Homo sapiens: one gene and its partners. The protein of the gene in region 7 purifies or fractionates together with the protein of the main gene of each other region. This does not show direct contact. Each region holds a gene or a part of one and is shown on either strand. Other genes may lie near its edges. The genes, in order: COQ8B, RSAD1, VWA8, GATB, PSMA8, PTCD1 and SHC2.

Region 1 (3,500 bases), about 40 Mb from region 7:
CCGGATGGGGAGTATTTTATATTTTAGGCTGGGTGGCAGGATTTGTGAGTATTCATTTTACTTTTCTATATCTTTTATTATTCTCTGGATTTTTTTTCTGGGTCTAAAATTTGTTATTGCATAAACAATTAGAACTAAAAGAAAAAAAAGCCTTCAGCTAGGGGGTCGGTTGGAAACGGGAGATGAGGCCAGGAGCCCAGTGAGGCAGCCAGGCAGGGACTCTGGCAGGAGCAGGCAGGGTCATGGGGAGGGAGACAGATCCTGGCTGCCCCAATAGACAGTGAGGGTGTGAATGGGATCCCAGCATTCCTTTCACCATTCCTTGCTTCCAGGTGACCCTGCTGGACTTTGGTGCAAGCCGGGAGTTTGGGACAGAGTTCACAGACCATTACATCGAGGTGAGTCTCCCCCAGACCCCAGGGCCTCTGAAAGGCTGAGGCTCAAGCCATATACTGAGGCAGAGGAGTAAGAAGGCGAAATGCAGTTTCTGGAATTAAGAAATAATAAATAATAGTAATACTCGTAGCAACTAGCACACACCAAGCACTTAATATGTCAGGCTCCATCTTTAGTGCTTACGTATAGGAACCGATATAAACCACACAGCAACACAATGCGAAAAGGACCGTTTTTAGGCCCGTTTTAGGCCAGATGAAGTAACTGGGTCCTGGAGGGGTTAAGTCACGTGCCCAAGATCACAGCAGACTTGGGATTCAAATTCAGGTGGTCCAGGTCCAGAGCCCAAGCTTCCAACCACTGCCCAGCTCCCTCCTAAGAGAAAGGCCCACAGTGACCATCTTGTCACCTCTCCAGACCCCATGCTGTCCAGGGCCCTGGTGTCCAGCCCAGGTGTGTGTCCCTGGGGGCAACTCTGTCTACAGGAGGTGTTTCCTCACGTACTTGGCTCGTCTCTCCCACCCACTGGGGTCAGTTTGTCTTAGAGGCTGCAGAGAATACCATTTCATTCGTTGTTGAGATTGGACATTTGCCCTGGGTCCTCTAATCATGTAGCCATCAATCTAAACGTTTTCTTTTCCTTTTTTTTCTTTTCTTTTTTTTTTTTTTAATTGAGACAGAGTCTTGCTCTGTCGCCCAGGCTGGAGTGCAGTGGCTCGATCTTGGCTCACCACAACCTCCACCTCCTGGGTTCAAGCGATTCTCCTGCCTCAGCTTCTCGAGTAGCTGGGATTACAGGCATGTGCCACCACGCCCGGCTAATTTTTGTATTTTTAGTAGAGATGGGGTTTCACCATGTTGCCCAGGCTGGTCTCGAACTGCTGACCTCAGGTGATCCTCCTGCCTTGGCCTCCCAAAGTGCTGGGATTACAGGCATGAGCCCTCCTGCCCAGCCAATCTAAATGTTTTCTGACCCCTCCTCTGTGCCCAGCTCTATTCTAGGCAAAGCTGGAGACACAGCAGTGACCTGGGCCCAGCCTAGGCCCCTCCTCACAGAACTCATAGTCAGTGAGGCGACAGTGAGGACCTAGCATGGACAGGGCTGGGATGGGGGAAGCGCAGGGCACTGTGAGCCCAGAGGAGGAGCCTGAGCCAGCCTGGGGAGCCAAGGAGGGCTTCCCGGAGGAGGGAGTGTCAGCATTGAGACCTGAGGGATGAGGGGGGCCAACTGGGAAAAGGCTCGGAGGGTATTTCAGATAGACAACATGTGCCAAGACGAGGCAGTGATAAGGGACAGTCCCATTAGAGCAGCATTTCTCAGACTTGGATGTGCATGTGAAGCCTGGTGATCCTGTGCAAGTGCAGATTCTGGTCTGGAGGTGGGTGTAAGATGCTATGTTCTGACACGCACCCATGTGAGGCCAGGGCTACCCGTATGGGGACCACACTGGTAGTAGTAAGGCCCTAGAGCACCCAAAGGAAGCTCCCATTCTGAGTGGGAGGGCAGGTCGGGGGGCAGCACAGTGACGAGGCTGCAGCAAATCACTGCGGATTTTAGAGGCTGCGCTCTACAGCTCGTACTGTATCCAGGTGCCCTGCGGAGCCGTGGAAAAGATTTGAGCAGGGAAGGGATGCAGTCAGAATTTGAAAACTCCCTCTGAATAAGAAGTGGTCTCTAAGCCTGGGGGTGGGAGCTCAGGGCAGCTGTGGAGAGGGGCAGAGGGGTGGCTGGGAGATGCCCAGCTGGCAGTCCATGGGAGCAGACGGGCTAGAAGTTGGGGACAGAGGTGTCTAGGGGTCTGGTCTGGGGACTGGTGGGGCCACCTCTGAGACAGGAACAGGAAGAGGAGGTGATAACCCCTTACACACAGGCCCCTTGGGGCCCTCTCTGCCGGCCACTGAGGCACAAAGCTGAGACCCTTCTTCTCCCCACTGACACCCTCCCCTCCCACCCAGGCCTGCAGCCTTTGCCACTTTATAAAAGCCCTGGCTTCTGAGGACCACAGGCCTGACAGATGGCCAGACATGCTCGGGCAGGGGGAGCAGAGAGGGAATGGAATTAATCCCGAATCCCCCTCCTCACAAAAAAGGGCAACCCAGTAGTGAGTGGTGTGACCCGGTTCCACTCCCTACTCCGGGTCTGCTTCCCCTTCTGTGAAATAGGGACCCCCGTGCCCACCTCTTAATAATGGTAGATTATAGTATTTACGGTGCTTCCTGCATGAGACACAGCGCCAGGCAGGCCACAGGCATCACCTTCTTTATCCTCCCAACAGCCCCATGAGGAAGGCACTTTTGGCATCCCCACTTCACAGATGAGAAAGTGGAGGCCCAACAGGCCGGCAGGTGGCAGAGCTGGGACGGAACCCTAGCCAGCTGGCCCCAGCTGGGCATCTCTCCATGCCCACAACTCCTGCCCTGTGTGTGTGAGCTCATGGCTGGAGAGCTGCTCTGCTCCACACGCTCATTTGCTAAAGCAAGGTTCACCCAGGGCCTCCTCAGCACCAGACCCTGTGCCCCGTGCGACTAAACCCAACTGGGATCCTTGCTCTCACGGGGCTCAAAGTCCAGTGTGGGAGACAGAGAGATGGCCCCTGGCAACTTTGGATGCAGTTCTGGGTCACGCTCATACCCGTCCAGTTGAGTGTTTGGACTCACCAGCAGCCCTGACACTTGTTTCTTGCACTGTTTCACTGTGGCAGTTCCCGGGCAGGCCCCACATTGCCCTCTAGGTGGGCAGGATCCCTAACCACCTCCACTCCCAGGCTCTGGAAGAGTCTTTAAGGGAGTCACAGACAGGCAAAGTTGGGAGCAGGAAGCTTCCAGGTGAGGGAGGGCCCAGGCAGATGAGAATGGAGGTGGGTACATGGGAGGCCCAGGCTTCCAGCTCCTCTTCTCCAGAGCCCCCTTGAGCCCCGGCCTTTGTCCCTCTAACTCCCACCCGTCTCCCCAGGTGGTGAAGGCTGCAGCTGATGGAGACAGAGACTGTGTCCTGCAGAAGTCCAGGGACCTCAAATTCCTCACAGGCTTTGAAACCAAGGTGGGGAGACACTGGGGGAGAAAGGGGCTGGTGTCTGTTGGTGGGGTGCAGTGGGGGGCTGCTT
Region 2 (2,307 bases), on a different chromosome or scaffold from region 7:
AACTAATATTGGAGGGTTACAAAGATTAAATTAGACACTACATAAAGGTGCTTGGCACATAGCGACCCTTCTGTGAATGGCAGCTCTTGGTGCCAGCTTGACCTTCCCCCTCCTGCCTTCCAGCTGCCTGCCACGTGCTGCGTTCTCCCTGTATCTGTGTCTACAATGGGGAGGAGGGTTCTTGTCTCTCTCTGAGCTGCTGGTATGCTTACACCCACCCTCTTTTCCCAGTCCCTAGATGACACTGAGCTCCGGCTGTTGGGACGGACGCACTCGGCCTGCGATGCTCTGCGGACGCTGGCAGAGGCCCGGCGCCTCTTTCCCGGGCGCGTGTCTGTAGACTTGATGCTGGGGCTGCCGGCACAGCAGGTGGGGCCGTGGCTTGGGCAGCTGCAGGAACTGCTGCACCACTGTGATGACCACCTCTCCCTCTACCAGCTGTCCCTGGAGCGGGGCACCGCACTCTTCGCCCAGGTGCAGCGGGGTGCCCTTCCAGCCCCTGACCCGGAGCTCGCAGCTGAGATGTACCAGAGGGGCCGGGCTGTCCTTCGGGAGGCTGGCTTCCACCAGTATGAGGTCTCCAACTTTGCCCGGAATGTAAGTTCTGGGGCTGATGGCTGGAGGTGGAGGATGGGCAGACTGCAGTGTGACCAGGGCGTTGTGACCTTCTGAAGAGAAGGATCCTGGCCGAGATGGTGGGACATTCTAACCTGGGGCCCCTTACCTGAGTCTAAAAATGAGGCCTGCCCTCTTCACTCTGCACTATTTCCTCCCTCCCCGCAGGGGGCGCTCAGTACCCACAATTGGACTTACTGGCAGTGTGGTCAGTACCTTGGCGTTGGGCCTGGTGAGTCCCGTGAACTACAGAAAGGGTGACTCAGGAGAGGAATGTCGTGGCTGTGTGAACTTGGGCCACATTAACCTCTCCAAGCCTCTATTTTCTCATATGTAAAATGTGGCAAAAAATAATACCTCCCTATAGAACTGTTGAGCATGAATTATAAGGGGCTTAATGTTGCACCTTGCACTAGGGTTCTCAGCCTTTAGTGTGTATGAGAATCTCCTGGAGGGCTTGTTAAAACCCAAGCTGCTGGGCCCCACCCTCAGAATTCCCAATTGGACAGGGCTAGAGGAGAGCCCAAGAATTTATATGTCTTGGCATTTTGGGATAGATGATTAAAAAAAAAAGAAAAAGAAAAAAGGGCCTGGTGTCATGTGCCTCTAATCTGAGCTACTTGGGAAGCTGAGGTGGAAAGATCGTTTGACCCCAGGCGTCCAAGACCAGCCTGGGCAGTATAGTGAGACACCACCTCAAAAAAAAAAAAAAAAAAAAGAAAGAAAGAAAGAAAGAAAAGAAAAGAAAAATAATTTATATTTCCAGTATGTTAGAGGCAGTTGCTCCAGGGACCACATGATTTAAATCTGGTAAACACATAGTATTAACAGCCATTAATGTGGGGATGGTTGTTGATGTTGTCAGGGGCCCATGGACGATTTATGCCCCAGGGGGCTGGAGGCCACACCCGGGAGGCTCGGATCCAGACACTGGAGCCTGACAACTGGATGAAGGAGGTGATGCTGTTTGGCCATGGCACCCGGAAGCGTGTCCCCCTGGGCAGGCTGGAGCTGTGAGCATCCAAGGGCACAGGGCTCTCCTCCAGGATCCCCACACCCCAAGACCATGTCTATTTGTATATCTTTTATTTCCTGTCTTGTCCTGGCCCCTGCCTTGCCACATACTGTATGGTCCCTGTTAGCCTCCTCTAAATGCATCCCAGTGTAGAATTTGGAGAATGGGAGGAGCACAGGCCTCCTCTCTAAGACTCCTTGGTGATTTTTCTTTGAGGCTGGAGGAAGTTTTGGCCCTGGGGCTACGCACCGATGTGGGGATCACTCACCAGGTAAGGAGTTAGGATTCTTGCACACCACTCCCTCCTAAAGTCTTGCAGAATCAATGCCCCCTCCCTGCCACCCCCCCCACACACATATACCTCCAATTTCTGTGAGATTGGCAGCTAGAAGTGGGGCCCAGGTCCAGCTGAGGCCTGATGGGCAGAAGCAGTGAGCAGTGGTGCATAGCTAAGAACCCTAGACCAGGGCTGCAGAGACCCAAGTTCCAGCCCTCATTTTACTGCAACCTTGGACACAAATCCTTTCACCTCTCTTAACCTCAATTTTCTGAGCTCTGTGAAGCAATAGATAGATAAAGGGTTTCCACTTGTTTTTAGGGAGCACTGAAACCTCTCATAGGAAGCACAGTAGATAATTATCAAGCAAATCCAGAGCTGCTCTGGATAAAGCAGAGCC
Region 3 (3,500 bases), on a different chromosome or scaffold from region 7:
ATTACAGAAGCATAAATCAGATCCTGTGCTAGCAGAAAGACTAATGGAGTGATCAATTTGTGCTAGAGGAAAAGTTAGGGAAGGTTCAATGGGGAGATGAAGATATTTCAGTAGTAGTTGTGTAGAGGGCAAGTGGTGTGAGAGAGATGTGGAAGGTCTTCTAGGCTGAGGAGATAAAGTGTTAGTCACTGAGATAGGAATACAAGAGGTGGAGCTGGTTAGAGGTGGTTAGGCGCACACAATGGACAATATAGAATTCTGTTTCTGTGTGTTTGTTGAGTTGTCTCTGGAATATCTAGGTAAAGTCTCCAGTAGGCTACTGGCAGGTATGAAACTCAGGAGAGAGATCTGAGCCAAAATAGACATTTAAAGAATTAGTTGTATATGGTGTTTGAAGAGTACCCTTAACTGAAAAAAAAAAAAAGGTTGTATAGAGGTCAGAGTTGGGACATTGGTATGGATTAAATGACTGAGGAAAGTGTAGTGTAGTAACAGAAGATGGCCAAGAACATCAATGTTTGAGGCAGAGATGGCAGATGCCTGGTCCATATGAATGTCATAACTTTTCCCTTTTGTCTATTGCAGATGTGGCTCATTGATCACCACCCTGTTTCCCAATGAGTCCAATTTCCGTTGTGATTTATTTTTTGGATTTTTTAAGAAGCCTGTTGCTTGATTTCCAAATGTTTGGGGATTTTCCAGTTACCTTTTTGTTACTGATTTCCAGTTTAATTCCACTGTGGTAAGAAAACATAATCTTTATGACTTCCATCCTTTAATTTTCTTTTTTAATTTTTTTTGACACAGAGTTTCACTCTTGTTGCCCAGGCTGGAGTGCAATGGCGCTATCTCGGCTCACTGCAACCTCCGCCTCCCTGGTTCAAGCAATTCTCCTGCTTCAGTCTCCCAAGTAGCTAGGATTACAGGCATGTGCCAGCCACCACGCTCAGCTAATTTTGTATTTTTAGTAGAGATGGGGTTTCACTATGTTGGTCTGGCTGGTCTCAAACTCCTGGCCTCAGGTGATCCACCCACCTCGGCCTCCCAAAGTGCTGGGATTATAGGCACCAGCCATTGTGCCTGGTCTCATCTTTAAATTCCTTGAGACTTGCTTTATGGTCCAGCCTATAATTTATTTTGGTGAATGTTCCATGTGCATTTAAAAAGGATATGCATTCTGATCATGAGGAACCAATTACAATACTAAAAAGTGCTTTATAAAATACAATATTCAGTTGATAGGTTGAGAAAATAAAAACATACTTGCAGTAATACTTAAATAAATAATAAATAGAATATGCATTCTGTTGTTGGGTGTAGTGTTCCATAAATGTCATTTAGGCCAAGTGATTAATAATGTTTTCCAATCTTCTCTTTCTTTACGTCTATACTTGGTCTTTGCCAGAAGGCTGAGAAAAAATTATCCTTATCCTGTATCCTTCTTTATTTTTTCCTACTTCTTCCATTATTTACCAAGAGAGCTACTTAAAGCTATTAATATCTAGATGTGATTGTGCATTTTTCTATTTCCACTTTTAGTTCTGTCCGTTTTTGCTTCATGTTTATTTCCCAGCTCCCTCCCTGCCAGGTCACCATTATGGGTTTGCTGTGTTACCCAGAAGGAGGCTTCCTAACACAGTGACCCTCTCTGCTTGCTCTCTCCCCTTGCCCCTTCAGGCCTAGGGGCGGTAATGACTTTCTGTTATTGCTAGTCCTAGGATACTGCACCATCTTTTTTGGTTTCCGTAAACTCTGCTATACCTTTGTAAATAGTTCCCTTTTTGTACTCTCCTCAGTTACTCAGTTTGAATGTACTGTCTTTCAGAAATGTGAGGTATGAATTTTACTTTTTTTAAAAAAAAAATGGACAGCCAATTGTCAAGTTACCATGAATTTGTATAGTCTGCCCTTTTTCTAGATTATTTATTAGAAGGATGATGTCGGTCAGCTCTAACACTCAGGGAATGTTTGTAATGAGAACCTGTGCCTGAAAACGTTTTTCTTATGTTCAGATTAATTACTCAGTATCATTTTGTCAGGAGGCCAAATAATTACAGTCTTTTCAGGAAGTGAAATAACATTTGTAAAGACATCCTATTTGAAAATACTGTAACTATAATTCTTGAAACTACTCTGTAATAAAAGCCAGTAGATAATATCACTTATATTTGTAAGCAAGCTTATCTTTTAAAAGAAAAGCTACTGTAGAAAGTAGCTAATTTATAGGTTCTTTCCTGCATTAAGGAAAATAGGGCGAGATGACCAGTCAACCAATACCTGGCAGTAACTAAGATTGTACTATATGAGGCACTGCTGACCACCTGTTTTTTGAGGGTGTTAGAACTTAAACGACCAAATGATCTCAAACATGCATTAGAGATCATCTGGAGGGCTCATTGTAACACCGATTGCTGGACCTTAGGGTTTCTAATTCAGTAGGTCTGAGGTGGGGCCTGAAGATTTATATGACTTACAAGTTCCCAGGTGACGTTGATGCTTTGAGAATCTCTGTGATAGATTGCGTGAAGACAAAGAGTTAATTGGACAGGGGAGGAAAAGGGAGCGGTGCACGGGTTATGGAGGAGCTTTGCAGGCTTTTGAATTTTGGTCCTCATCATCTTTTGCCTTGCTTTTTTCTGGCTGCCAGTTTTGGACCTAGCAGGGATTTAGCTTTGTGTGTAGTCCTTATCTTCCTCTCTCAATTTACCACATACCTGTAATAAATTTCTTTATCTGTTAAAAACTCTGTTATGGATTTACAAATTTTCTCATTTGTAAAATTTCTGTCTCATAGGATTATTTTGAGAATGCAAAAAATACTTAGAAGGTAGTAAGCATTCAACAAATGTTGGCTATTGTTATTAGTACCATGATTTAAGGCCTTAGTGTTCAAGGTATCTTGCTAGCTTTAAACTGGCAGTGCTGAAAGATGAGTTTTGCACGACTACTTTTTTGGAGTGTCTCTGAGCCCTTTCCAAATGAAATTCTAGATGCAAATGGTATCACCATGCCTATTTTGCTGTTAGAGAGAGCACAGCGGGGAGAGATTATTCAGTTTAGTCCTCGGCTTTAGAAGATCACTCGGAAATTAAGGTTACATTAAAAAATAGAACTGTATAGAACTTACTGAAAACTTTTGCCTGCTTTTGCTTATTTCATGTAGGAATTCTTGGCTTTTATTTTTTATTTATTTGAGACGGAGTGTCGCACCGTTGCCCAGGCTGGAGTGCAGTGGCGTAATCTTGGCTTGCTGCAACCTCCGCCTCCTGGCTTTAAGCGATTCTCCTGCCTCAGCCTCCCAAGTAGCTGGGATTACAGGTACGTACCACCACGCCCAGCTAATTTTTGTATTTTTAGTAGAGACGGGGTTTTACCATGTTGGTCAGGCTGGTCTCTAACTCCTGACCTCAAGTGATCCGCCTGCCTTGGCCTCCCAAAGTGCTAGGATTACAGGCGTGAGCCACTGCACCTGGCCAGTTCTTGGCATTTATGCCACTGGG
Region 4 (3,500 bases), on a different chromosome or scaffold from region 7:
TTGTAAATGAAACGAGGAACAGAGAATCTGAGAGCTTTACTTTGTAGGGTGCCAAATGTGATTCTTTCTTACCTACATCTATTTGTCTTGGGATTTTTCTCTCTCTCTCTTCCTCAAGAGCCTTTTAGTCCTCCCCACACATTGCCTGCTTCTTTAGGGCTTGTTGCTCCTAATCTGAGGGGCCTCCAGGGTCAAAGAAGGTCCTCCCAGCATGGGGTCAGCACCTCTCTGAGTCCCACCACAGACTCCTGACTTCGTAACAGTGCTGTCTGTCTGCTGTAGCAAATCGTTAGAGCAGTCAGGAAGGATTCGGAGTCATGTTTGTGGAAGGAAGAGATTATTACAGTACCTGGAGGAAGGAGGAGGGGGGAAAGCCCAGATTTCAGTTCTTGCCCTTGAGCTGCAAATTCTCAAGGACTCTCCTCTAAATCTCCTGGAATCACTGTTAGAAATCCACATTCCAATGGAGAGCAGTGTAGGGTTATCAGATATATGAGGCCTTTCCTCCAACTCAGCTCTGACACTTTGAAAAAAAACTTCAGTATAAAACTGCAGAGTCAATCTCCATTTTAATAGTTTTGTTTTTCTTGTTTAGCACAAAAAAATTAGATCTCTCCAGCTGGCGAATCTAAAACTTCTCTTCCATATGTGCATAAGCACACACATCTGTATATGTTCACATGTACAGGCACACACTGTAGATGCCTCAGGACTGTAACCCCTCTCGAGTGGCCAGAAGTACCAGCCACGACCTACTTCAGAACCAACCGTGCCTTCTCTGAAGTTAGGCTGCTATAACTAAACAGCAGGTAGAGTTAGATGCTGCTTCCTTTGACACTCCCTGCCTTTAAAAGACTATGTCACCTCAAAGAATTTCTAAGGAGTTGTTTTCTTCTCTCCTTCCAGAGGGCCAGTTGAGAGTGGATGCCAATATATCCGTGCATCACCCTGGGGAGCCTTTGGGCGTTCGAACGGAAGTGAAGAATCTCAACAGCATCAGGTTCCTGGCCAAAGCCATAGGTGAATGCCAGCTGCCGCTCCTAGTGTCCTTCTTCCTATTGTTTCTCTCTTGCTGGGTAACAAACAACCCAGAAACTTAGTGGCTTACACAAGAACTACTTTCGTTTTCACTGGTCCGTTCTGTTGGTCCTGTGTCGGCTCACTCATGTGGCTGTGGGAAACCGGCAGGCCAGCTGAAGCAGAGGGTCCATGGTAGTCGCTCTCATACCTTGGGGCCTTGATGCTGATGTCTGCTGGGCTTCTCCATCCATGTGATCTTTCTTCATGCACTTGCCTAGCCTTGGCTTTCTTATGAGGCAGTGGGAGCATTTCGGGAGGATGAAGGCAGAAGTGAGTCCTAAGCTGTAGACCTCACACAGTGTCACTTCCAATGTGTTCTATTCAAAGTAGATTGAGGCCAGGCACAGTGCCTCATGCCTATAATCCCAGCACTTTGGGAAGCCAAGGTGGGTGGATTGCTTGAGGCCACGAGTTCAAGACCACCTGGGCAACATAGCAAGACCCCATCTCTATAAAAAATTAAAAATTTAGCCAGGCATGGTGGTGAGCACCTGTAGTCCCAGCTACTCAAGAGGCTGAGGTGGGAGGATCACTTGAGTCCAGGAGTTTGAGGTTGTAGTGAGCTGTGATCACGCCACTGCACTCTAGCCTGGGCGACAGAGCAAGACTCTGTCTCTAAGAAAAAAAAAGAAAATTACATTGAATTCAAAGCAGACTTGAGGGGAAATTAGACTCCACCTCTTTATCAGAGGATCCACAAAAGATCATGGCTGTGTTTTACCATTTACCACCTTCTTTCTGACCAGCTTGAGATTTACTAGGTCATGGTTGTTCATTTTAGATTGACCATGGCTTGACCTAAATGGTCATTATGTTTTCCTGCTTTTTATATTCTTTTTAACTGCTAGATTATGTGCCCATGCAGTGAAGTAGTAGTCTTTCTGGAGCACACACTGTGGGTATTTCTTTGATGATAAATGTATAATAACTAAAATAGTTTAGCAAGATAAATATCTGAGCAGTCCCGTAGATATAGGTAACTGTGAATTCAAGGGGAGGACCTCAGAGGACTAAAAAGATTTTTTAAAACCGAAGCTATCTAGAGAGGAAGAGGGAGGGATGGAGTTTGAAGTGCACCCCTTCAAGGGTGCACAGAGACCAAGACAACTGAATCTGTTGCCAAAGTTTTGCTGTAGCCAAAATGTTTAATAGAGCCCTGGTCTTGTCAAGAAAAGTATTAGAAACAGTACAGAAAAGATGATTCTAGTCTTGTATTAGACCTTATTGTCCTGAACCTGAAGTGAATCAACCACTCAATGAAGACAGTCTTCAGGAAAAAGGCATTAAAGTGGTCAAACGGATAGCTTATGGGAGCAGAGAGGGAAGGGATAGGCTCCTATATGAAGGCAGACTAAAGATGGTGAACTGTTCTGCATCCGGAAAGGGACATAGCCCATGTTCCCAAAGCCATGAAAGGTTTGAGTCAGGGAAAACCCTTATAAGCCAAGTTGGTGAGGAGGAAGCCTGGAACAAATGGAGGAAGTTCCACCTCCCCCTGTAGGTAGTGGGCTGGGACCCGTTATTTTAAGAGGTGGTGATGGTAACCTTAAAAAAGCAGCCCAATTTTAGGTAGAGTCATCCATGAGTTCTGAAGGAGACCCCTAACCTTCTCCTGTCCTATGAAGAACTCTTTGGAGGACCAGTCTGAGGGAGAAATCTCCCTGTGGTCTGACTCAGAGTGGAAGAGCCAAAGCTTTACTATGGGTTCAATTCTCCAAGCCTGTGATTTTTCACCACCTTTTTCTCCCTATGTCAGGCCATTTAGCCATCATCTCGTGTCAACCAAAGAGATCACTGGAGTTGGGGAGAGATGGGGAGCAAAAACTGACACGTTTTGCTGTTGCTGCCTCTTAGCAACTCAGATAAAAGGGTTTAGGTTTGGGCAAGGGAAGGTAGTACATGGTGGGAGGGAGAGTTAAGGTGGAGGCTCAAGATATTTTCATAAAGCAGTTTAGCAGGCTGGGCTTAGTGGCTCATGCCTGTAATCCCAGCACTTTGGGAGGCCAAGGCAGGAGGATTGTTTGAGACCAAGAGATTGAGACTAGGCTGGAAAACATAGTGAGACCCCCATCTCTCAAAAAAAGAAAAAAAAAGCAGCAACAGCTTAGCAATTGTGGTTGTGTTTTGATTCCCACAGCCTCCCTCATTTGATGCTGAGGCATGGGTCCTTGGATCTTAATCATTTGGGGTCGTGGGTCCCTCTGAAAAGATAATGTAAATGCTGGACCCTCTCTCCAAAACCTGCACATATGCACACAACCCACACTTTGTGTATAATTTTGGGGATACCAGAGCCTTTGAAGCCCATCCCAGACTCCCAGGGTAAGGGCCCTGGGTAGGCAGCAATCTCAGACCGAGATATTGGGCCCAGCCCCACTTCTGCCAAGTCATGTCATCTGCATGGGGTTGCTTAATCTCTC
Region 5 (4,257 bases), on a different chromosome or scaffold from region 7:
CACACCTGTAATCGCAGTACTTTCGGATGCCAAGGCAGGAGGATTGCTTGAGACCAGGAGTTTGAGACCAGCCTGGGCAACATAGGGAAACCAAGTCCCTACGTTAAAAAAAAAAGTATTAATAATTAAATAAATTGTTTAAGTCAATTAAAATTCTGATTTAAGTATTTGGAATTCAGGGAATCAAATTTTTCCTCTTTTGAGGAAATTATTCTTTTTTTCTTTTTTTTGGTTAAAGTTGATTTCACCAACTTTAAGATCCTCCCCAGTGGAAAACTGCATATATTAAACAACACATGGAAAGCAATAATAGCTAAACTTACCTGGCTATTACTGCCCACCAGGCACCATTTTATGTAATTATGCCCATAAACACATATTAAGCTCAGAATACTCTGCTGCAGATTTTTTAATATTCCCATTTTATTGATAAGGAGAAAGCGACAGAGTTGTTTCATAGTTAGTAATGTAGCAAGTTGTAAAGAGTTTCTGCTATAGCTAAATTTCCAGACATCTTTTAAGTCTCATACTTTGGGCTTTTACAAAATTTCTCCAATTAAAAGAATATTATCTGGGCCGGGCGCGGTGGCTCACGCCTGTAATCCCAGCACTTTGGGAGGCCGAGGCAGGCGGATCACGAGGTCAGGAGATCAAGACCATCCTGGCTAACACGGTGAAACCCAGTCTCTACTAAAAATATAAAAAATTAGCCGGGCGTGGTGGCGGGCGCCTGTAGTCCCAGCTGCTCCGGAGGCTGAGGCAGGAGAATGGCGTGAACCCGGGAGGTGGAGCTTGCAGTGAGCCGAGATTGCACCACTGCACTCCAGCCTGGGCGACAGAGCGAGACTCCGTCTCAAAAAACAAAAAACAAAACAAAACAAAAAAAAGAACATTATCTTAATTCTCATCATTAGCTTAGTTTGATGGACTATTTGCTTTATTTAACGGACCATTTGCTCATCTGCTCTATTTTGCTCACAAGGCAGAAAATATCAGAAGCAACAATATTTTGAAGTTTGCTTTCTTTCCTTCGGTTCAAATAACAAGAGTTAACCTGAGAGAGAGAAAGAAAAAGTAGGAAATTTAGAATTTGAAACCAAAGGGAAGGGACTGATATTTAACTTACCACAGTTTCTCCAACATGTATGCGATAACAAAAATATCTGATATTTGAAGACCTCATTTTTAAGCCCTAATCTTTGATATTATTTTTATAACTCGAGTGCCGTGACACCATCCCTGGGGCAACACGGTAGTGGGGAAATGGAGATATGCGCTATGCGTCAGACATGAAGGGTAAGGGAAGAATGCCGTCAACTCACAGGCACTGCTTGGGTGACAAAGGCTGGCAAGCGCGAGGACATCCGCAGGCAGCCAAAGGAGCAAGGACTTCCGTGAAGCAGCCGAAGCGCGGGCGCGGGGACTTCCGGGAGGCAGCTTGAGGCGCGTGTGGAAGCGCTTCCGGGCGGTAGCACGCTGTGTTGGCGGCGGCTCCCCGCTTGCCTCAGCTGCAGCAGCGGGAAGCTCGGTGGCAAGCCCTTGTAGTCCTGTGCGATGGCGTCTCGATATGACAGGGCGATCACTGTCTTCTCCCCAGACGGACACCTTTTTCAAGTTGAATATGCCCAGGAAGCGGTGAAGAAAGGATCCACCGCGGTGAGGAAGCAACTATTACCGGACTATTCCCCGCTCTGACCTGTCAGGCCATCGTTACCCTGCTGCCCCAGCCCACCTTTCCATCCTAGGAGCTCAAGAGAGGAGATTCCCACACTTGTGAAAATTACTTTGTTCTTTTTATTTAGGGAGACAGACTTCTAGATTTGGGCCGGAAGTGGGCAGAGTAAAAGTTAGTAGATTTCCCCTATCTCTGCTGTTCAACTGCCTCTGTTTCATGGTAGCTACAGACGCAAAACTAGGGTGTGTGTGTGGGTGTGTGTGTGTGTGTGTGTGTGTCTCTGTGTGTGTGTGTGTGTGTGTAGGGACGTTAATGATGTGATTGACAATAGGGAAAGCTTCTAATCTGTAACAGCCTACCTATTGAACGCTCGTGGTCCAGTTCCTTGGTAGTTCAGAGACCCCTGGAAAAGTTAACAGTTGCTTCATGTTGGGAACTGTTTTTTAATAACAGTTACAATAAAAAATAAAAGTTGGCCACACCTGCTCCCCAAATACGGACTAAATCAATATAAAATTAAACTTTTGTTGATGAAGAAATGATTAAAAACACAGTTCAAACACACGCGTTAAAAATATCCCAAAATTGCTGGGCGCAGTGGCTCACACCTGTAATCCCAGCACTTTGGAAGGCCCAGGAGGGCGGATCACCTGAGGTCGGGAGTTTGAGACCAGCCTGACCAACATGGAGAAACTCCGTCTCTACTAAAAATACAAAATTAGCCAGGCGTGGTGGCGCATGCCTGTAATCCCAGCTACTCGGGAGGCTGAGGCGGGAGAATCGCTTGAACCTGGGAGGCAGAGGTTGCGGTGAGCCGAGATCGTGCCATTGCACTCCAGCCTGGGCAACAAAAGCGAAACTCCGTCTCGGGAAAAAAAAAAAAAATCCCAAAATTGTCCCAATATTTCCCAGCCTTGTAGAGGCTCAAAAGTCCAAGAACTTCCACTTTTTTGGCCACTTAAAAAATAATGCTGGAAGTTCCTTGAGAGATTACACCCTACCTTAGATTTATGTATCCACATTACTGAAAAACTTAAAAAATACTCAGGGTAGGAGTAATACTGCTGCCAAGTTTTAACTACGTTCAATAATTTTAGTGATTTATAAAAATTAAAGAGGACAAAAGTGCCCTAGTGACACAAGATCTATTACCCCAAATCTTCTAAGGCCTAGCCTATGAATTCAAAGGATCGGATATTTTTATTCTCTCAATTTCATGAGCATGTTTGTTGTGTACTTTGGAAATTGAGACAGTAGCTATGAGAATACACAGTACGTTTCTAAGTCTAGCAGTGTCTATATTTTCTGACTTTCTTTGTTAAAGAAGGAAATAATTCACTTTCATTATAAATCTAACAGATGTAAGTGGTAAAAAAAAAACACTAGAAGAAGAATCGTTTTAAAAGTATTTTTCTATTTAATTGGGCCCACTAGTTTTGCTTCTGTTTTGCAAGTAATTTTTTTAGAATTATAAATTTAAGGAAAGCCTGATGTAGCTTAAACCAAAAGGGTACCATTTTGATAAAAACAAAAAGTTATATAATCCCCAGCATAGCATGTAGCATATGGTTAGAAACTAATGGCCAAGTTTTAGAGCCTAAAATAAAGGGAGTAATAGGAGAAGACTAGGGTGTAATAAGAAACCACATTGGCTCATTTAACATGTTTTAAGAGTGCTGTAGAACTGATTGATGGTTCCTTTGTAATAAGCGGTAAAAGGGTAAGGATATAAAAATACCTATAGTGGGCATTTTTAAAGATACATTGGAAGAATGAGACACTTTTGTCTCAGAATTCTGAAATTATAATTTGCATGTTTGCATGGAGTTATTCATTGTGTTTCCTTGAGGGTGCTGTGACCTTTTACATAGGGTAAAGTTTTTTAATGGCACTTGATTATTAAAATATGTCACAAAATATTCTGTCTAGAAGTGAAAATTGATATTATGAGTTACAAATAAGCCAAGGTTGACCAGTTTTGACCAGTATGTAGATGTGATACTATTTAGTAATATAAAAATTATATGGGCCACAATTAAAGGCTTTGTGTTCTACTTCCTTGTTGATGATTATCTTATAGCATGAAAGGAGACAAGAGGCTTGTTTTCTTTTTGCTTCAGTTCCCTTTTCTGTAAATGCAAATTTGTTTAAATAACATTTTGGAGAAGTAATACCTTTCTTCTTAGGGAAAAGAAATGAATCCTTCACAATATTCCCATGAAAACGATAAGATTTATTATCATTCCTCATTTTGTCCTTTCTGTGACCCCAAACTGTTATTAGCTCTGTATTTCCTACTTTATCAAATCTCAGCTCCACAATGTAGCCATCAAAGTCTTCCATAATCCTATCCACCCTCTTAATTTAGGAGGCAGCTTCTTGGTTTCACTAATATGTGTTTCTGCCTACAGAAAGGGGAGAGAGGAAAGGGGAAAACACCTTTCTTTCTGCTGCTCTGCATCTTATTTATCCTTTAACAATCTCTGCACACTTGTCCTCTATAATGAAGCCTTCTCTGATCCACTCCAGTCATCTTGGATCTTTGTCTTTTCTGAATTTATAATCTGTACCACAGAATATTG
Region 6 (3,500 bases), on a different chromosome or scaffold from region 7:
CCAGAGGTGGATACTAAGGCAGAGCCCAGCCACACAGCAGCCCTCACCGCAGTGGCCCTGAAGCCACCTCCCGTGGAGCTGGAAGTCAACCTCCTGACCCCCGGGGCCGTTCCCCCTACAGTGGTCTCCTTTGGAACGGTGACCACCCCAGCTGACCGGCTGGCCTTGATAGGGGGCCTGGAGGGCTTCCTGAGCAAGATGGCAGAGCACAGGCAGCAGCCCGACATCAGGACCCTCACGCTACTGGCCGAGGTGGTGGAGTCCGGGAGTCCTGCAGAGTCCTTGCTGCTGGCCCTCCTGGATGAGCACCAGGTAGAGGCCGACCTGACATTCTTTAACACGCTGGTGAGAAAGAAGAGCAAGCTGGGAGACCTGGAGGGGGCCAAGGCGCTGTTGCCGGTCCTGGCAAAGAGGGGCCTCGTCCCCAACCTGCAGACATTCTGCAACCTGGCCATCGGGTGCCACAGGCCGAAGGACGGTCTACAGCTTCTCACAGACATGAAGGTGAGTGGACTCGGGCCTGGGCAGGACACCCATGGTGCTCAGGAGCACTCTGCAGCTCAGGAGGAAAGTTTGAGGGGTCTGCAGACCCCCCACCTGGAGAGGATGAACTGTGCATGGGGCAAAGAGAGTGGGGTCAATGACCTTCTGGTCTTTGGTCCCATTTTGGGGGAAGCAGACCCCAGTGAGTGCTTCAGGGCTGGGCGTAGAGACACACGGATGTTCCCATCCGGAAGAAGGTGGCCGTGGGTTGACACAGGGCTGGGCACAGGCCTCGGCCCCAACACTCTAGAGGTATGGCAGGGATTCTCAGAATTCCTGAGGGGCCGTGGGCAGTTTTCAAAGCCCCCGAGGTCTGTGCCTCCCACCTAACCCCCATTGGAAGTGCTGCGTGGATTTCATCCGACCACAGCAGAGGCTGCGTCCTGGGTTGTCGGTGTCCCCAGGTCCATCATCCTCTGGCTGTTTTCCTGGACCCTACCGGGCTCACCCAGCCAAGGCTTGCACTTTTCTAGGCCAACCACCACCTGGTGACCGTGCGTCACAGGAAGCCCACCCCAGGGAGCAAGGAGGTGGTGTCTCCCACATCATTTTCTGCCTGAGTCAGTCGGTGTCTGAGAGCAGCACGAGCGTCCTTTTCCGCAGCTTCTTTAGGGCTGAGCAGAGGGGCTGGGCTTGGCTTTCCTGCTGGAGAGGGATATTCAGCACATTGTTGCTGCCAAGTTTGCCTTGCTGGCCCTGGCCGCTGGTCCCGGGAGCCAGCTTGATTGACAGAGGGTGGGAGCTGCTGGGTCCCAATGGCTGCCATCATCTTGATTCTACGATGTCCCTGTGTTCTAGAAGTCCCAGGTGACCCCCAACACTCACATCTACAGTGCCCTCATCAACGCGGCCATCAGGAAGCTGAACTACACCTATCTCATCAGCATCTTGAAGGACATGAAGCAGAACAGGGTCCCGGTGAACGAAGTGGTCATCCGCCAGCTGGAGTTTGCAGCCCAGTACCCTCCCACCTTTGACCGGGTGTGTGCCCCAAGCTCAAAAGCTCATCAGCTCCTTCACCATTGCTACCCCCTCCCCCCACCACCCAACCCCGGTTCTGGCCCTTGGGATTGTGTTGCCATGCTTGAAACTGTCCAGCAGCTTCCCTTAGGAGCAGTACCCAAGTCTGTAGACCACAGCCTGCGAGTCCCTGTCTGCGTGGCTCATCTCATGTCTCAGCCTTGCGTTTGCTTTCTCTGTCTGTCCCAGTGGCCTTCTGTCAGTTCGCAGAGGCCACCAACCTCTTGCCTGCTTCGGGATTGGTGTTCCCGCTGCCTCAGGTGGCACCCACTTTTCCTGGAGGTCTCTGCTTAAGTGGCCCTCAGACATGCCCAGCTGGCTGCCGCTCTGACCTGGGATGAAAGTCTCCCCTCCCCCTTCCCACTCTGTTCCTTTATGCCGTGTCCTACAGTCTTGGATCATGTGCTCATGGGCAGCCCTGGCCTTCCCTGTATCAGGCTTCTGGAGGCAGAGGCTGTCTGCTGTGCTCATCTGGGTCCCCAGCACCTGCACGTTGCTGGGTACTCCAAACAGGTTGTCGCTTGCTCAGGGACTGGGCAGGCAGTGAAGTGGTGTCATTGTCTGGGGTGAATACCTGAGATTTGTTGTGAGCCAAGATCGCGCCACTGCACTCCAGCCTGGGCGATAGATGGAGACTTGGTCTCAAAAAAAAAAAAAAGAGGTTAAGAGCTGAAGTTTAATAGGCGAAAGAAAGAAGAGCTCTCGCCCGGTGTGGTGGTGAAAAAAAAAAAAAGAGAAGAGCTCTCTCCTTGCAGAGAGAGGTGCCAGAGAAGTGGGTTGCCACTTCCATAGTGTAATGCAGAGGTTTTGTAGATGAGCTTGGGGAGGTGGTGTCTGATTTACAGAGGACGCAAAAGATTAGTTGGACCAGGTGTGCCATTTACATAGCATGTATAAAAGCTGGTGCCCCACCCTAACCTTTTATTATGCAGACAGGTGGCCATCGCCATGTTGCCTGGTTCTTTACTGTACACATGGCAACAAAGAAGGGAAGATGGGGCCCCCACGTTGAACATATCTGGCTCCCAGGTAGCCCTTTTCTGTTGGCACAGCCGCCAGCATTTACCCCTGCAAGCTTCCAGTTTGCTTATCTATGTCTGCAGCTCGATTTTTCAGGCTGCTCTTTGTTAGAAAAGAAATTATTTGGGGGCTGCTTTTTATTAAAAGGGAAATTTCGCCAAGGACTCTGTTGCCCTTATTATCTGCCTAAATAATTTCTTTCAACCTCCTGTATCAGCAGGAGCAGGGCAGAGTCATGGAATCTGCTTTGTCACGGCCACAGCCTCTCCCTGCTGTTCTGAGGCTATCAGGCTCTGGGGTTTGGCTTTTGGGTCCATCGAATCACACTCTGTGCTGAGCATCTCCGGAGCATCGAGAGCCACTATGGCTTGAAGCACAGCCCGGATGGGGCGGAAACAAGTAAATGGGCAGGGACACACACAGCTAGAGGGTGCGGGGTCAGGAACGCCGTGCAGGTGTCACGCCTGAATGCCATTTTGAGGGCTTCCTACAAATAGGTGGGACAGCAATGGAAATTGTGTCTGGCTGAAGGCATAGCTGGGCATTTTTGAACTGTGTCTGTGCTTTGAACTGTTGGTTGCAAGCCTTTTCTCATTGATTCCAGGGTTTTTTATATATTCTGGGTACTGGTTTTTTGTTGATCACATGTTGTGCATATCTTCCTAGTGGATTGTCTCTTCCCTCTGGCGTAGGGCTCACTAGGGGTTCAACTCGACAGTCACAAGACTATCATAGACCTAAAGCATATCATATTTAAGTCACAGACAGATGTCCCTGACTTAAAGATGATTCTACACAGGATTTTTCAACTTTGCAATGGTTTTATCAGGATGTAACTCTGTAAGGATCGACTTTGTGCGGGGTTAGTTTCTACTGAATGTATATCACTTTTGCATAATTATAAAGTCAGGACCCTC
Region 7 (3,500 bases):
CACACACACACACACCCGAAGCAGCCACGGGAGGGACGGCCCCACACTCCTGACTCCCTTGTCCACGTGCAAGGGCACCTGTGAGTGCATTTGCATGCTTATCTGCATGCTCATTTGTATGCTTGTTTGCCTACTGATCTGCATGCTCGTTTGCATGCTCATCTACTTGCTCGTTTGCGTGGTCATCTGCGTGCTCGTTTGCGAGCTCATCTGCGTGCTCGTTTGCGTGCTCGTCTGCGTGCTCGTCTGTGTGCTCATCTGCGTGCTCGTCTGTGTGCTCATCTGCATGCTCATCTGCGTGCTTGTTTGCATGCTCATCTGTGTGCTTGTTTGTGTGCTCGTCTGCGTGCTTGTTTGCATGCTCATTTGCATGGTCCTGCTTCATTTGCTTCCCGTCACTCAAATCCCTCTAGGCCCCAGTAAGCCCCCGATACCAGCCACGTCCTGAGTCCTCCCTACAGAACATCCACTTCTCAGCCCCCATAGGGACCCTCGAGGCTCTCCCCTTGCCAACCCCGGCCCAGCCAGGAGGGTCTGCTTGGAGCCTCAGTATCCTGTCCATATAGTGGTCAGGGGTCCATGCCTCGCAGGGTGGGGGCAGAGATGGAAATTGCGTGGAAATGGCCCTCAGTCACCCCCCCGCCAGCTCCATCCTTCTCTAGCCTCCTCCCTGGAGCCCCAGCTGCCCCTCACCGCCACCTGCTGCCACCACACCAGCTCAGAGATGCTGTCTCACCCCAAACTCCTCACGATGATCCATGCTAACTTCTCCGACAAGGCGATGCCTCCTCTTTCAGCCACACCTGAGATTCCCCTCCTCACCACCTCCCAGAGCCCTCCAGGAAGTCTCTTCTAGCACCCAGAGCCCAGCACATGCTCAGGACACCCCTCACCTGGCCTCACAATGCTTCCTAAAATCTGTTATTTCCTCTATTTCTGCAATTATAGTTTTTTGTTTTTTGGTTTTTTGAGACAGAGTCTCACTCTGTTGCCCAGGCTGGAGTGCAGTAGTGCAATCTTGGCTCACTGCAACCTCCACTCCCAGGTTCAAGCGATTCTCCTGCCTCAGCCTCCCAAGTAGCTGGGATTACAGGCGCCCACCACCACACCCGGCTAATCTTTGTATTTTTTGTAGAGTCAGCCATGTTGGCCAGGCTGGTCTCGAACTCCTGACCTCAAGTGATCTGCCCACCCCTCAGCCTCCCAAAGTGCTGGGGTTACAGGCGTGAGCCACTGAGCCCGGCCTCACAGTGCTGGGGTTACAGGCGTGAGCAACCAAGCCCGAGCCTGGTCTGCAATTATACTTTTGTTGTTTGTTTCCACTTGAGGACTGATAGCCAGGGTTTATCCCCGCCCCTCCCCAGGCACTGTGGATGTTGGGACGGACCACTCTCTGGGGTGGGGCGTCCTGGCCCCTGCAGGGTGCTGAGCAGCGTCCCTGCCCCCACCCACTCCATGCCAGGAGCGCCCCTGTATCAGGACGGCTCGCCCAGGTGGGAGCCCCTGAGCTGAGCCCCGTGAGGGCAGTGGCTGCACCCCCAGCTCCTGCTCAGCGGGGCCTCGGCTCGTCTTTCTGGATAAACGCCACCTGCTGCCCGCCCCCAGCACCCCACCTGGCTTTGCCTCCTAGGACTCCTGGCCCCTCTGGGGGTCTGGGGACGCCAGGCGAAGAGGGCAGACCCACCTGGCGCGTGGCAGGCACGGAGAGGCTGAGGCCATCAGTGGAGATGTGGATGGAGATGCTCATGCCGGCAAAGCGAAGGTTGCTCTTGCCCAGGACGGACGCCAGGGCCTTGTTGGGGGCCTGAGTTGGGGGCGGAGCACAGCGAGGGCGGCTGTGGGTGGGGGCTGTCGAGGGGCTCCCAGGATGGCCGCAGCGTCCCCACAGCCCCCGACTGCCCCACCAGCCCCACGAGAGACCACAAGCCTCACTCACCTTTTTCTTCCAGGATCCCCGGACGCCAGGCACGGCCTCATGGAGCCGGTTGATGGCTTCCCTGGGGTTGGGAGGAGGGGGCTTAGAGAGTGTGGTGGGGGTGGCCATGGAGGGAGCTGGGGAGGAAGGGGTCAGAGAGGGCGGGGGTCTGGGGAGGGGGCAGGAGCTCAGAGAAGGGCGAGAGAGAGGGGAGAGGAAGGCAGAGAGGGAGGGGTGGGAGAGGATCAGGGGGCCTAAAGTGGGCAGGGAGGGGGCTGGGGAACCTGGGGGAGGAGTGCCCCACAGGACAGGTGCAGCTTGGGCACCAGCCCACTCCACGTGCGTCCTTGCATCCGGCAGAGGCCCGGCCCCCAGCTCTGGCCCCTCTACCACCCTCTTTCCCAGGGACCAGTGTGTCCCTGGCCTCGGCCCACAAGGAAGGCTCGGCATCAGATGTGGGGGTTGGAGCAGCGAGCAGGAGGCCCTGAGCCTGACGCGGGGTCCGTGTCGAGATCCTGTCTGCAGCCTGAGTGGTGGCAGGAGCTGACCCCAAACAAGAGCGCCTCAGACCACTGGTCCCCAGGAGAGGTTAGAAGTCTACAGGGTCCTGAAGGGGCCCCGGAAATGTCGGCGTCACGTGGAGAAACCAGATCCCCCACCCAGGGCATGTGGGAATTTTCACAGCACGGCCACTGTGGAAAACAGCCTGGGGGCTCCTCAAAAGGTTAAAAATTGGCCAGATGCAGCGGCTCCTGCCTGTCATCCTAGCACTGTGGGCCTGACACAAACAAATGCATGCAGGCGCGGCGGCCCCCACCTGTCATCCCAACACTTGGGGAGGCTGAGACGGGCGGATCACCTGAGGTCAGGGGTTCGAGACCGGTCTGACCAACATGGAGAAACCCCGTCTCTACTAAAAACATAAAAACTAGCTGGGTGTGGTGGTGGGCGCCTGTAGTCCCAGCTACTGGGGAGGCTGAGGCAAGAGAAATGCTTGAACCCAGGAGACAGAGGTTGCAGTGAGCCGACACGGTGTCACTGCACTCCAGCCTGGGCAACAGAGTGAGACTCCATCTCAAAAAAAAAAAAAAAAAAGGAGCAAGGCTCTGACCCAGGCCACAGCGCGGACACACCTCGGGAACGCCATGCTCAGTGAGAGACGCCAGACACACGAGGCCACGCAGCGTGTGATCCCATTGCTATGAAATGTCCAGGACAGGCCGATCCACAGAGACAGGGAGGGGATGCGTGGGTGCCGGGGCTGGGGAGGGGACGGGGAGTGGCTGTGATGGGGACGGGGTGTTTTGATGGGGTAATGAGAATGTTCGGAACTAGACAGTGGTGATCGTGTGACTCTGTGAAGAGCCTAAAGTCTCAAACTGTACATTATATCTCACATACGCACGTGTAAACTGTCTCACATGGTTTTTTTAAGTCTATACGAATGGAATCAACCAGTTTTCACAGAAAAAAAGGGTGTCGCTCTCTTCCCTGCTTAAGCCCTGGCCATATCCACAGCCCCTGTGATTGCTTTCCAGACACCGCATAGCATCCTGAGGTCACCGTGTGGAAAACAGAGCAGGGA

The links.
Region 1: the proteins of SHC2 (region 7) and COQ8B purify together in Homo sapiens (affinity purification with mass spectrometry; one large-scale study listed by BioGRID and IntAct). This does not show direct contact.
Region 2: the proteins of SHC2 (region 7) and RSAD1 purify together in Homo sapiens (affinity purification with mass spectrometry; one large-scale study listed by BioGRID and IntAct). This does not show direct contact.
Region 3: the proteins of SHC2 (region 7) and VWA8 purify together in Homo sapiens (affinity purification with mass spectrometry; one large-scale study listed by BioGRID and IntAct). This does not show direct contact.
Region 4: the proteins of SHC2 (region 7) and GATB purify together in Homo sapiens (affinity purification with mass spectrometry; one large-scale study listed by BioGRID and IntAct). This does not show direct contact.
Region 5: the proteins of SHC2 (region 7) and PSMA8 purify together in Homo sapiens (affinity purification with mass spectrometry; one large-scale study listed by BioGRID and IntAct). This does not show direct contact.
Region 6: the proteins of SHC2 (region 7) and PTCD1 purify together in Homo sapiens (affinity purification with mass spectrometry; one large-scale study listed by BioGRID and IntAct). This does not show direct contact.

What each region holds. Positions count from the first base shown.
Region 1 is NC_000019.10:40,692,887-40,696,386, reverse strand, and holds part of COQ8B (atypical kinase COQ8B, mitochondrial), read left to right. Parts: intron 1-332; coding exon 333-398; intron 399-3,349; coding exon 3,350-3,436; intron 3,437-3,500.
Region 2 is NC_000017.11:50,481,860-50,484,166, forward strand, and holds part of RSAD1 (radical S-adenosyl methionine domain-containing protein 1, mitochondrial precursor), read left to right. Parts: intron 1-231; coding exon 232-597; intron 598-783; coding exon 784-847; intron 848-1,480; coding exon 1,481-1,628; intron 1,629-1,846; coding exon 1,847-1,901; intron 1,902-2,307.
Region 3 is NC_000013.11:41,951,110-41,954,609, reverse strand, and holds part of VWA8 (von Willebrand factor A domain-containing protein 8 isoform a precursor), read left to right. Parts: intron 1-3,500. UniProt on the Homo sapiens protein: Exhibits ATPase activity in vitro.
Region 4 is NC_000004.12:151,705,508-151,709,007, reverse strand, and holds part of GATB (glutamyl-tRNA(Gln) amidotransferase subunit B, mitochondrial isoform 1 precursor), read left to right. Parts: intron 1-906; coding exon 907-1,020; intron 1,021-3,500. UniProt on the Homo sapiens protein: Allows the formation of correctly charged Gln-tRNA(Gln) through the transamidation of misacylated Glu-tRNA(Gln) in the mitochondria. The reaction takes place in the presence of glutamine and ATP through an activated gamma-phospho-Glu-tRNA(Gln).
Region 5 is NC_000018.10:26,132,412-26,136,668, forward strand, and holds the start of PSMA8 (proteasome subunit alpha-type 8), read left to right. Parts: upstream 1-1,457; 5' UTR 1,458-1,554; coding exon 1,555-1,656; intron 1,657-4,257. UniProt on the Homo sapiens protein: Component of the spermatoproteasome, a proteasome specifically found in testis that promotes acetylation-dependent degradation of histones, thereby participating actively to the exchange of histones during spermatogenesis.
Region 6 is NC_000007.14:99,421,799-99,425,298, reverse strand, and holds part of PTCD1 (pentatricopeptide repeat-containing protein 1, mitochondrial), read left to right. Parts: coding exon 1-504; intron 505-1,341; coding exon 1,342-1,524; intron 1,525-3,500. Other genes in the region: ATP5MF-PTCD1 (ATP5J2-PTCD1 fusion protein), read left to right, coding at 1-504, 1,342-1,524. UniProt on the Homo sapiens protein: Mitochondrial protein implicated in negative regulation of leucine tRNA levels, as well as negative regulation of mitochondria-encoded proteins and COX activity. Also affects the 3'-processing of mitochondrial tRNAs.
Region 7 is NC_000019.10:437,034-440,533, forward strand, and holds part of SHC2 (SHC-transforming protein 2), read right to left. Parts: intron 1,998-3,500; coding exon 1,937-1,997; intron 1,805-1,936; coding exon 1,685-1,804; intron 1-1,684. UniProt on the Homo sapiens protein: Signaling adapter that couples activated growth factor receptors to signaling pathway in neurons. Involved in the signal transduction pathways of neurotrophin-activated Trk receptors in cortical neurons.